2 separate regions of the Homo sapiens genome follow, and region 2 is linked to region 1. The links come from fine-mapping of genetic effects on gene expression. A gene starts in region 1. The other region holds a variant in brackets. All regions are shown on one strand. Distances are from middle to middle.

Region 1 (2,961 bases):
GATTAACTCGTTTCTTCCTCACAACATCCTTATGACATAGGCACTGTTACTATCCCATTTTATAGATGGAGAAACTGAGGCAAGGAGTTTCAGGATCTTCTCAAAGGCTTGCAGATAAGAAGTGACAGAGCCAGGATTCAAACCCAGGCAGTATGATCCAAAATAAAAAAATGTAAAACTGTAAACATTTCATGCCAAATTCTGAATGCTGTTGATTCTGGACAAGGAAGTGTCCAGGATAGGTGAGTAGAGGTAGAAGGAGACTTTAGTTATATCTGAAATATCTTTTAAGGATGTAGTCAAACAACGTTTAAACAATGTGTTCATTTTTTCCCATAAAAAATGTAAATATATTTAAAAGTCTAGGACAAAAGATGCTAACATGCCATTCTGTCATGGATGACTACGGTTGATGGAAATATGGGGGACTATTCTTACAACTTGTTTGTAGTTTTCAGTATCTTTCAACTTTAAAAAAGGCAATATTGTATGCGCAACTATTTTCTTTCAATTGTTTTTAACTGACGAATAAAATTTGTTCCAGTCCCTTTAAATCTAAATCTTTCTCAACCTTGACACTATTGACATTTTGGGCTGGATAACTGTTGTGAATTTTCATGTACACTGGAGGATGTTTGGCAGCTTCCCTGGTCTCTATCCACTAGTAGCCAGTGAGCATCTCTTTTGCCCCCGGCCCCTAGCAGTGGTGACTAAAAATGTCTCCAGAGGTTGCCAAAGGTCCCCTGGGTGGTAAAACCGCCCCCCCCACACACACCCCCCCACCCCCCCGGCTGAACACAACTACCTTAATAAGCCGAAACACGCTTTTTTTAACTTTATATAATTATTTGAGATTAAAGATTTCAGAGATATTTTGCTCATTAAGCATCTCACACTCCAAGTTGGAAGGATACTGAAGGGATGAAAAAAACTTCAAGCGAATGTAGCACTTAAAATCCAATTATCATTGCAAGGAATGACAGACCCAGGTCTCGGGATGCCCGCTTCCTTCCCTCTCTCCCGCAATGCGGGGACAAGGGGAGGAAATCCAGCCCCATCGCCCCCTCTGCGAAGTCCTGGGAAGGGAAGACTCGCCAGCCCCATCCTACCTCAACGCAGCGGCAACATACCGGAGGCCCCACGTCGATACGGTATCCATCTGCTCCAAACCTCCCGCCAGCGCGCTGCATCCTGGGAGGCCGGGCGGAGGCTGCGTCGAACGCAGAGGAGGCGGAGCCTAGAAGCCAGCCAGGAGAGGTGGCCAAGGGAGGCTGAGGAGGCGGGGCCCTGGGGAGTGTTGTGAAAGCAGAGAGCCCGCGAGCTCTCTAGGGCGGAGCTCCGCGGGGGAAGCGCCGGCGATCTCGCGGCTGGCGGGGGCGGGACCGCAGTGCGGGGGATGTCGCGGGGCGAGGCCAGACGAGAATCGAATGGGACCTAGGCTGAGGGCCTGGTCCCGCCTCCAGACCCAGGCGTCCGCATTGGATTGGGCGGTGCGGCGGCGCTTCTGTCCGCCTTCCGGTGTCACGCGACCGCCTCCCCCTCCCACCCTTCTCTGTCTACCTCTGGGCGGGACTGCCGGGTGATGAGATACTCGGTCGGCGACGGTAGAACGGGCGACGGCGACAACCGCAATCACATCCACGACGGTGATCATGGCAGAGGTGAGGAGCCTATTGCACCGCCGCTGGCCCCCCGGACCCGGAAGCCGCCTCTGAGGCCCGGGGACCGAGCGCCCGTGTGCAGGTGGGCTGGGTTGAGGGTAAGCGGGTTGATGCAAGTAGTATCTAAGGTCCCATCGTGTCTCCCATCCAGAATCACGCCCAGAATAAAGCCAAGCTCATCTCTGAGACCCGGAGGAGGTTCGAAGCTGAGTATGTGACAGGTGGGTACTCTGTTCCAGGTATTAAGAAAGGTGTGCAGTGAGCATCCCCAACTTTGCTGGAGTGTTTGTGAGTGTATTTGTGGGAGGTGTTAGGGACCCTTTCGACCCTCACAGGAATGATGCTGGGCACGTCTCAAAGGTTTTCCTCTCCATGACAAGCCGTGTGCACTGCTTCAAATGGTCAAGTGGTGTGTCCCATGCTCCCTTTAAAGGGTTAATGTAAGTTGGAAATCGGTTAAGTTTTTAGCATGCCCTCGTGTTTATGGAACTTGCAGGATACTTGTTAGGCCCACAACACGGGTGACATTGTCCAGTCCACGGTTCCACTGCTGGCCTTTCACCAGCAACACTAGCGAAAATGTACCTGGAAACTGCCATAATACTATTGATGTGTACTTAATTGGGTATACAAATTCCTTGGATATTTTGTTTGATTTGGCTTTCATACAACCCAGCATGCTACCCACAAAATAGGCCCTCCAATGCTGGAACAAGTTCTTATCCCAAACTGTATCTTGCAAAGTACCTATGAGTCCAGAATTGATTTATTGGTTGAACATTCTGTGTCCAGATGTCACAGATACTTGAGTTGTCAGGTACTTAACTGAATATTTAATGCTTGTACAGTAATTTTGTAAAACATACGGAATAACTTATTGTAAATATGGAATTAAATAAGGATTTATATGTTGCCTACCTTAAGATTGATTGTAATCCTAACCCTGCCACTACATAGCTTACTTGTCTATTCTGAGCCCGTTTTCATATCTGTGAAGTGCAAATAATAAAGTTAGTAGGATTAAATTTTTTAAAAAAACATAAACCATCTAGCATGTCTTAAAATATAGTGGATTCTCAGTGAATATTTTGCCTCAGTTGTCATTTTGGTTACTGTGAAAGGAGTTAAGCTTCTACATCTTGACTAGTACTCAGCAGAGGTTCCCTGCAACTTTAAACCATCCTAGATTATACATCAGTTGATGACATAGAACAAATATGGAAATCGGTTTCAAATACTTGTCAGTAAATCTTTTCATACCTCCTTGCCAATTTTCTTCACACCCCAAACTTTGTTCCAG
Region 2 (2,500 bases), 55 kb before region 1:
AACCACTTTTCTAAGTTTCCTTTGACCAGTAAATCATCTAAAAGGATGAAGATGATCTAAAACATCAACTGGCCCATATAGAGGTGGAGTAGACCAAAGATGAAAGAAACACCTTCTCCTAGATCTACCACTTATTTCCCCTGTGACTTTGGGCAAGTTTCTGAACCACTCTTTACCTTATCTATAAAAGGAGAATAATGTTACCTAGCTCACAAGCTTATTGTAAGAATTAAATGAGACACTACCTACTATTTTCTCTCTGTTTTGGGAAACATCCTATTATATGCCCAGTTCCTATATAGACACAGGGAGTCTATTTCTGAACTTTCCGTTCTCTTCTATTTGTGTCTCTGCATATTTCTGTGAGAATTCCCCACTGTTTTTATTAACCATTATTATTATTAGCCCTCTATTATCCACAGGTGACTTGTCTGAGAAACTCGGCCATTTGGAAAGAGGCTGGAAACTGAGAAGTGAAGAAAAAGGCATGTAGAAGCCCTGCACTAAAGGTCAGATACATTTCTCACCATAAAGCCCCCCAAGGTTATTAAGATGGTTTATAAATTATTTCCTCCTCTGCCCCTACATCCTCTTGTGCCTCGCATACAGGTATAGACACCCAATAAATGATTGCTGAGAAACGAAATGACCAATTTCAGACATAAGGCAAACAAGATTATCATTATCAGGCTTCTCCACATCACCAAAGAAGTCCCAAATTAGGTAGGATAGGGATAGGGAAGGTGTTAATACAATCAGAACTGGTGTCAAGATGTCAGTAGTAAGAAGTAACAGGTCTGACATTAAAAGAGTAAATTAAAGGGCAGACATTAATTTAAAAATAAAAACTACATGCTCTGGAGAGTAAGCAGCCATAAACACCACAATAACCCCCTAGCTGCATTACATTGTCAGCGCATAATAACTGACATTCCTAATAATGACTCTGACATTTTGAAAAAAATGCTAATTTCTGTTCAGCATGTTCCATTTAAAAAAAATTCAGGGTAGTGTATAAGGCATTTGAAAAAGATTTCCATCACAGACTTGTAAAATATGTGATTTGCAATGCACTTTAGGGATTACCTAATCTAATTGTTTT[C/T]TAGATGAAGAAAGTCAGTTCCGGAAAGATGAAGTGCACTTGCCCAAGGTCAGGCACCAGAGAGACAGAAATGGAATAAAGGCCTTAGTTTGCCAACTCCACAGCAACTGCTTTTTCCACTGCTGCACATCTGCACAAACATAAATATATATTTTAAATTTATTACGAGTACCAAATTTAATATTTGGCAACTCAACAGGGATAGACTTCAAATATTTGGAATTTCCCTCACTGAGCTATTAATAAACCGGTCCTCATTGAGCCTTTGTATTGCTCAAAAAAATTAGATCTGATGGGTGGGTGTCAAAGGAGTGAGAAAGCATAATGCTTGACTCAGGTGAATTTTTAGAAGGGAGGGTAAGATTTACATGTAAGAAGTCAGAGCTATGGAAAGCAGTAGGGAGAGTGGTGCCCTGGGAATGGAGGGATAGGAAATGGCAACCCATGACTGCTCGTCAAAGAAGGTACGGGGTGGGGTGGGGCAGATCTCTTGGGCTGGACCCAGAAGCATATCTGAGTTGGACCCAGAAGCATATGTAGGCCTTATTAAAAAAAAAAAAAAAAGAGAGAGACTCTAGATGTGAAGAACATTAGAAAACACTGGCGGGGGGTTGGGTGGAAGCCTGGATCATGTTCCAAAACATTCATTCAAACAAACAATTTAATAAGCATGAGTTACTTATGAAGATTGGGGGGGATGTTATAGAAAATATTAAAAATTGAGGCTTCCCTGGAAAATCTAAGTTGAAGGGATGAGAGAATAAGGAAAATGGTCCAAACTGCTCTAGAAGGGCACTATCTGGTAGAAATATAACGCATGCCACACATATAAAGTTTTCTAATAAACCCATTAAAAAAGCAAAAAGCAACAGTTGACATTTACTTTAATATTTTAACTAATTCAGTATATCCAAAATGCTATTATTTCAATATGCAATTGATATTCAAAAATTATGGAGACGTTTTACATTATTTTACTCGTACGAAGTCTTTGAAATATAATGTGCATGTCACACTTAAGCATATCTCAATTTGGGTACTAAATTTTCAACAGAAGCACTTGATCTGAACTTAGATATGGTAAAATTTGCAACTGAAAAAGTGAATTCACATACTCAAGTTGTTCCAAACACACTTAAAAGTTTTCCAATAATTGCATCAAATATCAAAAAATCATCTTCCATTAATATTCAAATCCACACCGACAAAACTGCTTCAGTTTTTTAAATTTAAATGCCAATTAACTAATAGTAATTCAAAGTTCAGTTCCCCAGCCCCCCTGGACAAATTTCAAGAGTTGAGTCATACAGGTGGCTAGTGGTTATGCATTAGGCAGCTCAGGTCTAGAAGATGGGTTCTAGGGGTGGAGCAGGGTTGTCCCATGACATAAGGCCCTTG

Evidence for each region. PIP is the estimated chance that this variant, and not a neighbour inherited with it, causes the effect.
Region 2: its variant is fine-mapped to the expression of MOSPD2 in whole blood (TOPMed, PIP 0.97).

Annotation. Positions count from the first base shown.
Region 1 is chrX:14,871,877-14,874,837 of GRCh38, forward strand. MOSPD2 (motile sperm domain containing 2) reads left to right here and starts at 1,545. Exons shown (of 15, transcript NM_152581.4): 1 at 1,545-1,661; 2 at 1,813-1,882. The coding sequence starts at 1,653. It overlaps FANCB (FA complementation group B), which reads right to left and starts at 1,193. Exons shown (of 10, transcript NM_001018113.3): 1 at 1,110-1,193. RefSeq lists a silencer at 1,283-1,512.
Region 2 is chrX:14,816,726-14,819,225 of GRCh38, forward strand. It overlaps a transcript of FANCB not described here. Among named protein-coding and RNA genes, the nearest start is that of FANCB, 55 kb to the right of the region's middle. The variant C/T (reference allele first, on the strand shown) is at 1,103.